Linked DNA regions of Homo sapiens: all the other regions are linked to region 1. Evidence: fine-mapped expression QTL. A gene starts in region 1. Each other region holds a variant in brackets. All regions are shown on one strand. Distances are from middle to middle.

Region 1 (2,685 bases):
CACAGAGCTCTCTAAATTACCAGCTGCTGATTTATGCTTGCTACTATTTGCTTAATCTTTTATACAATAAACATTTAAGAGCCAACTAAACTTTGGCATTAAGGATATAAAAATGAATAGACACATTCAATGCCTTCAGAGCTCCTACCATGATTTCCAGCCTGTGTTGACATGAACTATATTATTTTGCAGAATAGTCTTTTCCTCTAGATTTTAAACTTCTCAAGGTCAGAGACTAAGTCTTCTCTGTCCTCCAATATGTCCAAGGGCACAGAAATGCTAGTTAATACAAGCATGGGGTCTGGGGCTAGAATCAGAACCCAGGCTCTGCAAAAATTACCAGTCAGACAACCTGCATCAGGTTTCATGAACTTCTAGTACTTGTTTCTACATCTGCAATCATGGATTTATGACAGTGTCTATTTCATGAAGTTGAAAATTAAATGAGCAAATACACGAAAAGCATGTGCTATATGGCAAGTTCTCAACAGTTTTAACTATTATTCCTACTGTTTAGGTGAACTTAGAATTTTGAGCAGTCATTCCAAAATAAAAATAGCTTTTAAAATATCACGCTGTAAATTTAAGAAATGTGTGTTGTCCTGAAATCTAATGATTTTCTTTGGTGCATGTGCAAAGGGTGTCACCTTCTCCCGGGAAAGCTCTTCAGAGTATGAGGCACTGTCTTCCTACTGACATGCCATGCGACTTTAATAGGCTCTTTTATTTTCCTTTTCCCCCATCAAGACAAAGAACGGAGAGTAAAAGATCAGCGCACTTGTTTAAAAAAAAAAAAGTCGTGAAAAGGACAACTCGCCAAGGACTATGATGTCTCTGGAGAGGGACACACAAGGATGAAGCTGGTGTATTATCCAACAGGCCCGAGGCCCCAGAGCGAAATGACACCATCGCACCAGGGTCAGGCAGGTCTTGGGGGTGGCATGGGGAAAGGGGACTTCCCAGGGCTCAAGAAAACGTGGAAAAGCGGGCTACTTTTAAATCGGAAAGCCTTGGTGCTTCCTACAAGCAAGTAGGATGGTCCCCACACTTGGGGACGAGTTGGAAGGTTTGATGAATAACTCAGCAGAGCCCGGTCGAGGGGTGACTTCCGATGGAGAAATGTGTTCGCTACTGGAACCAGGTGGGACGAAGGGTGCTTGACATGCAAGAACCTTTAGCCTCAAAGCAGAGGCCAACCCAGGACGGGCAACACAGGAGACCCACGTTCCTCAAATCTGTTCTCCACGTGGGCTCCTGGGACCCCGCACTCACCAAAGTCGTAAAGGTTCTGGAGCAGAGCGTCAAGAAGTGTCGGAGAACTGGGAGGCGTGGAGGACCCCGGCCCTTGCTCCTGCGACATTGTGGGGTCAGCCGAGGAATCAACCCTCATTCTGCCGCGCTGCACCCCCGCTTCCGGGTTCCGCGACTGCGCGCATGCGCTGCAGGGCCCTGCGCGGCTTCCGTCCTGGCTGAGATGGCGGCGCCCGGGATCCTGTGTAGCGGCTGCAGAGGGTGCCGCCGCCCTAGGCGAAGTAGGGCCGTCCTGAGCGAAAGAACCGCCCCCAGCAGGAGCACCACCACGGCTTAGCAAAGAATCCCAGACCCCGCCCGGGAAGGCAGCCGCACCATGGAGTCTTCCAGTTCATCTAACTCTTATTTCTCCGTTGGCCCAACCAGTCCCAGCGCTGTCGTGCTCCTCTACTCGGTAGGCGCCCAGGGAAAAGAGGCCCAGAGCGGAGCCGCGCGAAATAGTACCCCTTTCTCCCAGTCCCTATTCCTCCGGCCCACCACCCTTGCCCAAAAGAGCTGGCCCCTAGGCTCCCGAGGAGGGGTTAGTTGGTTGGATTGGTTTCCAGGACAACAGTGTATCGCTGTGTGTCTGTGTGTGCATGCTTTTGGAAGTTTCTACGGATTATGGTTCCTTTGGTTCCTTTCCACTTTTTCCTTCTCTTTCTTTCTATCAGGCCCTGGGGCCTTCAGAAAGCTCCTGGACACGAGAATGAGGAATGAGAATTGGAGTCTCCCCATCTCTAGCGAGGGCATGTCGAGCTACCTTTTGGGCAAACCTGAGAAACTTGCGGGTTTGACCCGCCCTGAGATAGCCTGTGGCTCCGCACCCCGCCCTATGCTGCTGTTATATTCCTGGGAGTAGAGCACTTGGCTTGTATGTGGGAATAGAGTTTTAAACACTTCAGGAAAATTTAGAACTTCTAGACATTTTTATTGCCTGTTCTTGTCTTCCAGTCATTATTGTACCTTTTCCACAAATCATTTTGGAGGACAGCCAGCGCCACCCAGCTTCTCTCCCGCTTGTCTTTTTTTCCTCCAACCCCCTCTTCCTCTCTTGGTTTTAACGGGTCTTTTTGGCTGGCAGATGTTGGTCACCCACGATTTTCATGAAGAAATTATGAGATGGGAGCTTTATAGCCTTCAGGATTGCACAGACCTGGGGCAACTGGTTTGGTTTTTGTTTGTTTCTTGTTGTTTTTAACCACTAAATTAGTTTTTAGCTACTTTAGGAGAAAATGAAAGAATTCATTTTAAAAGCATATTAGCATATCCTGGTGATTACTGTCCAATTTTGGCTTAAATGTAGTGTTCATTTGTGCAGAAAGGTCAAAACAGGGATAACACAGCAGAGCAAGATAAACACCCCAGTTTTGAAAGAGAATATATGGGTTCCTT
Region 2 (2,685 bases), 24 kb after region 1:
ATCTTCCATTTCATGGGTTACCTTTTCACTCTGTTGATTGTGTTATTTGATGCATGGAAGTTTTTAATTGATGTAGTCCAATTGATCTATTTGTTTCTTTGGTTCCCTGGTTCCCTGTGCTTTTGGTATCAGATCGAAGAAATCATTGCCAAATCCGAGGTCATGAAGCTTTTCCCTTATGTTTTATCCTAAGAGTTTTATGGTTTCAGGTCTTACATTAAGATCTTTGGTTTTTTGAGTTAATTTTTGTATATGGTGTAAGTTAAGGGTCCAACTTCATGTCTAACATTAATTTTAATAGCCATATAATATTCAGCAGTGTGGATATTTCATAATTTAGTAGTTTTGCTGTTATAAACAATGTCATAATACATTTTTATATTGGTGCTTTTATTCCTGTAAGATCGATTCCTAAAAGTGGGATTGCTAAGGCATATAAGTTGTTTATCCACTCCCTTTTAGGGTAGCCAGGAAAGCCAGGATTCAAGTATACACGTTTGTTAATAAATGCAGTGAATGGTAAGGTTAAAACTGCCAAGAACTTAAGCACTTTAAAAGCATTTTCATCTGAACAAACTTGTGAGGAAGTTATTTGAAAACTAGGGGAAATGAAGAGAAAGACTATTTTAAAACTGCTGGTAGCAATCTTCCTTTCTTACAAGATTTGCCTTATTTAATCTCTTCCAACAAAAGTAGGTTGATGTTTTTTCCTGGTAGGCAAAAGATGAGAGCGGGTTTGGCCTGGCTGTCCAGAGCATGAAGGGCACATATTGGTCTGTTGTCAGGCTCAGCAGCATGGCTGACTAAAGACATTGACATCATGACATTGTCATGTTGCTCTGCTGTTGCCCCTGGCTCTAGCTGGCCTACTTGTAAAGGGAGTGGTGCATGGAGAAGCACAAGGTAACCTCCCAGTGAGCACCTGGCCCACAGAATCCCTTCTTTTCTATAATTCTATTAGGTATCTCTTATGTATTTTAATGTCAAAGTATAATAATATCATAGGGGTGTCTTACATTTATGAAATCTTTCTTAATAATGTTTGAGTTTAGGCCAGGCACAGTGGCTTATGCCTGTAATCCCAGTACTTTGGGAGGCCGAGGCAGGAGGACTGCTTGAGGCCAGGAAGTTTGTGACCAACCTAGCCAACATAGCGAGACCCTGTCTCATAAAATAAAATAATAAAATATAAATGAAAAATAAGCATGTTTAAGTTTAGATCTTTATAGAAGATTTCAAGATCTGCAAATAAATATTATCCCCTCTTTTTTAGACTTCCTGGGAATGAAAATGGTTGGTGAGCTGCTACGAATGTCGGGTGCCTTTTTCATGCGGCGTACCTTTGGTGGCAATAAACTCTACTGGGCTGTATTCTCTGAATATGTAAAAACTATGTTACGGGTAAATGCAAATAATTCCCAACTACTCTTAAGCCATA[T/C]TTTCTTCACTGATGTTTGCTCATTTAAACTCTTAACTTCTGAATAGAACACTTAGCTATTTTGCTTTCCCTCAAGAACTGCTTATAACCTCAGCAATTGGTTTAATCTGTGTGACTCTCTTGTTTAATTTTCACTGTAAGCTGTGTTTGTTCAGGAAGCTTGGGAGGGAGCTTGGGAAAAGGAATCAAAAGAAGCATTTATCATTTTGAGAGTAGGCAATGGGTTTTGTGTTTTGTTTGTTTTCTCTTTAAAGAATGGTTATGCTCCTGTTGAATTTTTCCTCGAAGGGACAAGAAGCCGCTCTGCCAAGACATTGACTCCTAAATTTGGTAGGTCACTACAGATTAAAAGGAAAAATACAAACCCAAAGACATCAGCTGCTACATAAAACTTGACGCTTTATTTAACAAGATATTCTTTTCAAGTGTAAATGTATAACTGTTGATATTTACGGGATTAGTGTATAATGTATGCTTTTAGTATTTTCCGTTTATGTGCTCATGTTTGCTCTGCTCTTCAATATGTTGATGAAGCATTTCTCCCTGTGTTTTGCAGGTCTTCTGAATATTGTGATGGAGCCATTTTTTAAAAGAGAAGTTTTTGATACCTACCTTGTCCCAATTAGTATCAGTTATGATAAGATCTTGGAAGAAACTCTTTATGTGTATGAGCTTCTAGGGGTTCCTAAACCAAAAGAGTCTACAACTGTACGTGAGCTTGATTTTAGCTTAATTGAGAGAATGTGCTGACTGACACATCAACTAATTTCTAAATTTACTGCTTTTCGTTTTCTTCCCCCCCTGTTATGGTACTATTAGGGGTTGCTGAAAGCCAGAAAGATTCTCTCTGAAAATTTTGGAAGCATCCATGTGTACTTTGGAGATCCTGTGTCACTTCGATCTTTGGCAGCTGGGAGGATGAGTCGGAGCTCATATAACTTGGTTCCAAGGTGTGACCTGTGTTTTAATAACTGTCTTAGAAATGAGGATTAAAATCCAAAGGTGTGAGTTGCAATGCTGGAGTTGACCACTTCTCTTGATTTACTTAAGATTACAGAGAAAATGATCAGAAATGCTGTTATCATTCCGTTTTCATCAGTGGAAACCTTCAATTAAAGAAGAATTATGTGTTTGTCCCAAAAAAAGATAAGCTGTGAGATATGTATGTCAAATATGCAAAATCAGACAATGATCATGTTTCTCAAGGGAACTAAAGTGGGAATAAATAATGCCATTATTAACAAGTA
Region 3 (2,685 bases), 38 kb after region 1:
TGTAAGCTGAGAACTGGATTGAGCAGGAGCCAGCCCCTAGAGTGGCAGGGTTGGAGTGACGGAGGAAGGGACAGTGGAGTGCAGTGTGCCAGGAGAAAATAGTGATCAGGACGTCCTGGGGCAGGTTCCAGAGCTCCCAAAAGATCAACATGGCTGGAACAAGAGTCACAGATAGTGAAATTGAAGACAGAGGCAGGCGCATTAGTCAGTTTCAGGGTGCCATAACACAACAGCTTAAACACAGCTTAGGCAGCTTAAACACAGACCTATTTTCTCACATTTGTGGAGACTGAAAGTCCCAGATCAAGGTACTTGCATAGTAGGTTCATTTTGAGGCCCCTTTCTGGGCTTGTAGGTGGCTGCCATCTTACCGTGTGCTCAGAATGACCTCTGGGTGTACTCGGAGAAGAAGCAAGTTCTCTGATGCCTCTTCTTTTAAGGACACTGATCCCATCATGAGGCCCCCGTCGTGACTTCATCTAACATTAATCACCTCAAAGACTCCTCTCCAAATATAGGCACATTGGGTTAAAGGTTTCAACATATGAATTTGATTCATGTTGGGATTACAGGCATAAGCCACTGCGCCCGGCCTCAAAAGTCTCTTAAGGCGGGATTCTGGGATTACCTGCATTCAGGGGTCCTGCAATGTGTGTGTGTGTTCCCCAGGACCAGGCTGTTTCTGCTGCACATTGAGATCGGAGAGCCATCTTCTCCATGCATTGGTGACCAGGAGGCCCTCTCTGTGGCTCTGCTTGGGGCTGGTTCTCGATTTCTTTGGGAAGCCAGGGAGGAGTCTGTTGAGATTGACCAAGAGCGAGTTGAAGAGTCAGTTGAACAGTGTTCCTGGCTGAGGACTCTCCTGTATGCCTGTTGAATAGGGGACCTGAGCTGCTGTTCTCCAGGGAGAGAAAAGCTGTGAGTCCAGGGCAATTGGGAGAACAGGACCCTGGCCAATTCTTGCAATGTAGACATGCCTTAGAAAGAATCCCCATACACCCAATTCGTTACTTGTTTTTCTTTACCCTGACACTCATGCTGTGCATGTACATGTTGAAGAATGAGTCAGATGACCTTTATTTCCTTGTAGGTCTGTTTGTAACACATGCCAAGTTTAGACAAAGACTTTGGAGTTTTGGGTGCAAGTGGCTAGACTTGTCTCCTGGCCAGCTCTGTCATTAGTCAAGCAAGCAGACAATGTGGAGGTGAAAGGAAAATGGGGTGCAGTGAAAACCAAATGAGGCTCTGCAGCAGAAGCAGCTCTAGGTGGCTGGGCATGGTGGCTCACACCTGTGATCCCAGCACTTTGGGAGGCTGAGGCCAGCGGATCATGAGGTCAAGATATCAAGACCAGCCTGGCCAACATGGTGAAACCCCATCTCTACTAAAAATACAAAAGATTAGCTGGGCGTGGTGACACGCGCCTGTAGTCCCAGCTACTTGTGAGGCTGAGGCAGGACAATTACTTGAACCCGGGAGACAGAGGTTACAGTGAGCCAAGATAGCGCCACTGCCTGGTGACAGAGCGAGACTCCGTCTAAAAAAAAAAA[A/C]AAGAAAAAAAAAGAAGCTCCAGGCATGGGAGCAGAGCTTATCACTTCTCAATTTCGTCATTAACCACCCTCTCTCGACACTTTAAATAAACCTAAAATTATTGTGAAAGAATAACATGCTTACTGTGCTACCAACCTTCAAAGTATGTACTCTGTCCCCAACCCCAGACCTGCTGCTACACACACCCATACCTTTCAACCACATTGCTAGCTGGATGCAGAGGCTCGGGCCTGTAATCCCAGCACTTTGGGAGGCCAAGGCGAGAGGACCACTTGAGCCCAGGAGTTCAAGACCAGCCTGGGCAACATAGTGGACCCCATCTCTACAAAAAATACAAAAATTAGCTGGATGTAGTGGGACACACCTGTAGTCCCAGCTACTCAGGAGGCTGAAATGAGAGGATCACTTGAGCCTGAGAAGTCAAGGCTGCAGTGAGCTGTAACTGCACCACTGTACTCCAGCTTGGATGATGAGTGAGACCCTGTCTGAAAAAAAAAAAACATGGCTTATGCCCCTTCACTACCTACTGCCTATAAATTCTGGAGCTGCCACTGCTTTGAAGTAAGTAGAAAGAAAGCCTGCAGGCCGGTTATGGTGGCTCATGCCTGTAATCCCAGCACTTTGGGAGGCTGAGACAGGCAGATCACTTGATGTCAGGAGTTCGAGACCAGCCTGGCCAACGTGGGGAAACCCTGTCTCTACTAAAAATAGAAAAAATTAGCCTGGCATAGTGGTAGGTGCTTGTAATCCCAGCTACTCAGAAGGCTGAGGCAGAAGAATTGCTTGAACCCAGGAGGTGGAGGTTGCAATGAGTCAAGATAAAATACAAAAAATTAGCCTGGCGTGGTGGTGGGCGCCTATAATCCCAACTACTCAGATGGCTGAGGCAGGAGAATCGCTTGAACCCAGGAGGTGAAGGTTGCAGTGAGCCGAGATCGCACCACTGCCCTCCAGCCTGGGTGACAGAGTGAGACTCCGTCTCAAAAAAAAAAAAAAAAAAAAAAAGCTTGCAGCATCTGGTTTTTCAAGACCATCTCCCCATCAAACACAGTATAATGTAGTAGCCAAGAAAGCAGTATCTGGAGACTGACTGGGTTTGAAACCCAGCTCTACCATATACTAGCCTTGTGTGGT
Region 4 (2,685 bases), 31 kb after region 1:
AGCCTTGTCAAAGACCAGGTGATTCTGAAAGTGGACTCCGGAGACTCGGAAGTGGTCGATGGGCTTATGCTCCAGCACATCACTCTCCTCATGTGCTCAGCTTATAGGAACCAGCTGCTCAACATTTTTGTGCGCCCATCCTTAGTAGCAGTAGCATTGCAGATGACACCAGGGTTCAGGAAAGGTAATTTTCAGGAATGCAATCTTGACTTTTAGAAGAGGTCTGGCCATTCCATTCCATTTAGGGAGCCACATTTGAAGCCTTGTAATGTTCAGCCTCACGCCGGTGAAGAGCAGGCCTATCACTGAGAAAAAGTTAGCTTTGTTCCCCAAATACTTGTTCATCTGCTTCGAATTTTGGAATTGGGAGGACCTGGAAATAATCTAAACCTTTCCTTCTATAAATATGGAAAATGAGGCCTAGAAAGTTGCATAATTACTGAGAGAAGGATCTGGCATTTGAGTACAGTTCTCCACTTCCTGGTCTGCGGCACTGTTTTGGCTGTGCCAGCTCCCTGATCCAGCAAAGGCAGGTGGGCAGATGAGCAGTCAGCAGTCGATGAGTACTCCCGAGATGCATGGTCTTGTTCTAATTGTATCAGGAGTATAAAAATGAGTACAGTACACGTCATGTTCACAGGAGCCTGTAGTCAAGGCCAGGGGGTTCTGTCAAGGCCCTATGTTAGAATTACTAGGGGAGTGAGCCCCACCCCAAAGTTTCTTCAGTTGACCTGGGGTATGGGCCAGCCATTGGTGTTTGGTTTTGGTTTTGGTTTTGGCTTTTCAAAGCTCCACAGTGATTCTAAGGAAAAGTGCTACAGATATAATAAAGATACCAGGAAATATGAATATAGAGGGAAATTAAGAAATCAGTACCTTTCCTTCCCTACTAGGGAGCCATGGGGTAGGGAAAAATGAAGCGTCCTGGCCTCTAAGGACTGTGATGTCTCGCTGAGTAGAAGCCTGGTTGTAGGTTAGAGTCAATCATTTAAAAACTATGCTAGGGCCGGGCGCAGTGGCTCACGCCTGTAATCCCAGCACTTTGGTAGGCCGTGGTAGGAGGATCACGATGTCAGGAGTTCGAGTCCAGCCTGACCAACATGGTGAAACCCTGTCTCTATTAAAATACAAAAATTAGCTGGGCATGGCGGCGAGTGCCTGTAATCCCAGCTACTTGGGAGGCTGAGGCTGGAGAATCGCTTGACCCCAGGAGGCGGAGGTTGCAGTGAGCCAAGATTGCACCATTGCACTCCAGCCTGGGTGACAGAGCGAGACTCCATCTCAAAAAACAAAAAACAAACTATGCTAGACCGTAGTTTGCTCTGTGGGTAAGATTTGGGTTTAATTTAGCTTCCCTCAGGGGACTTAATTCTTGTCCCTGTTACATGAATAAAATATGCCTTTGAAATACATTTTGTGATAGTAAGGACTTCCTGGTACTCCCTTAAAGTTTAAAGGGCAATGTTGTAATTTTACATGATGCATTTATTTCCAGAGGATGTCTACAGTTGCTTTCGCTTCCTACGTG[A/G]TGTTTTTGCAGATGAGTTCATCTTCCTTCCAGGAAACACACTAAAGGTAAAGTGCTTACAACAAAGAGCAAGTATGTTTGCAGTGTGAGTTCTAGAAATGTTAGGGGTGAATTCACAGATGTGTCTCAGGCAGTGTGCCATCCCTTTCTTCAAGGCAAAGTGGGGCAGACTTCAAGAGAAACTGGGGCGCTCACAGTTCAGCAGACTCTAGTTTGATTCTTGATCAAGTTTAATTAATAACTTAGGGATTATATGGTGAGAGGAGAGTCATTCTTTGAACTATCAGTGTGGCCATTACAACTAAACTAACTTTATTTTAGTAAACGTTTAAAAATCAGCACACAGCCGGGCGCAGTGGCTCATGCCTGTAATCCCAGCACTTTGGGAGGCCGAGGCAGGCGGATCACGAGGTCAAGAGATCGAGACCATCCTGGCCAACATGGTGAAACCCCGTCTGTACTAAAAATACAAAAATTAGCTGGGCGTGGTGGCGCATGCCTGTAGTCCCAGCTACTCAGGAGGCTGAGGCTGAGGCAGGAGAATCACTTGAACCCGGGAGGTGGAGGTTGCTGTGAGCCAAGATTGTGCCACTGCACTCCAGCCTGGTGACAAGAGGAAGACTCCATCTCAAAAAAAAAGAAACCAAACACAACAAAATCAGCACACATTTTCCTGTTAGCAAGTTGTTAGAATGAGTCACCCAGGCAAGTGCCTTTTACTTTGAGAGTAGTGAGTGCTGGTCCTGCCTGGTCTAGACAGCTGAGGGGTCATCAGGCTCGCAGAGCTGGACTGCTGCTGGGTTGAAGTGGGAAGTGACAGTAGATGAGAGGCATGTTAGGTGTTTGTGTGCTTTAAGGATAAGAGGTTTGATTCTGTAGGGAGTGGAACAGGAGTGTTGGAAACTTTTTTTTTTTTTTTTTTTTTGAGGTGGAGTCTGGCTCTGTCGCTCAGGCTAGAGTGCAGTGGCGCAATCTCAGCTCACTGCAAGCTCTGCCTCCCGGGTTCACTCCATTCTCCTGCCTCAGCCTCCCAAGTAGCAGGGACTACAGGCGCCCACCACTACGCCCGGCTAATTTTTTATATTTTTAGTAGAGACGGGGTTTCACTGTGTTAGCCAGGATGGTCTCGATCTCCTGACTTCATGATCCGCCCGCCT

What was found. PIP is the estimated chance that this variant, and not a neighbour inherited with it, causes the effect.
Region 2: its variant is fine-mapped to the expression of GNPAT in lung (TOPMed, PIP above 0.99).
Region 3: its variant is fine-mapped to the expression of GNPAT in blood mononuclear cells (TOPMed, PIP above 0.99). The same link has a PIP of 0.9 or more in lung and whole blood.
Region 4: its variant is fine-mapped to the expression of GNPAT in whole blood (INTERVAL, PIP above 0.99).

The regions. Positions count from the first base shown.
Region 1 is chr1:231,239,752-231,242,436 of GRCh38, forward strand. GNPAT (glyceronephosphate O-acyltransferase) reads left to right here and starts at 1,461. Exons shown (of 16, transcript NM_014236.4): 1 at 1,461-1,705. The coding sequence starts at 1,628. It overlaps FSAF1 (40S small subunit processome assembly factor 1), which reads right to left and starts at 1,424. Exons shown (of 7, transcript NM_152379.4): 1 at 1,273-1,424. The coding sequence starts at 1,390. RefSeq lists enhancers at 1,154-1,493, 1,474-2,363.
Region 2 is chr1:231,264,020-231,266,704 of GRCh38, forward strand. GNPAT (glyceronephosphate O-acyltransferase) reads left to right here. Exons shown (of 16, transcript NM_014236.4): 5 at 1,274-1,401; 6 at 1,693-1,768; 7 at 1,995-2,146; 8 at 2,258-2,388. Among named protein-coding and RNA genes, the nearest start is that of GNPAT, 24 kb to the left of the region's middle. The variant T/C (reference allele first, on the strand shown) is at 1,439.
Region 3 is chr1:231,278,189-231,280,873 of GRCh38, forward strand. No RefSeq gene overlaps it. Among named protein-coding and RNA genes, the nearest start is that of GNPAT, 38 kb to the left of the region's middle. The variant A/C (reference allele first, on the strand shown) is at 1,551.
Region 4 is chr1:231,270,817-231,273,501 of GRCh38, forward strand. It overlaps GNPAT (glyceronephosphate O-acyltransferase), which reads left to right. Exons shown (of 16, transcript NM_014236.4): 10 at 1-184; 11 at 1,496-1,575. Among named protein-coding and RNA genes, the nearest start is that of GNPAT, 31 kb to the left of the region's middle. The variant A/G (reference allele first, on the strand shown) is at 1,529.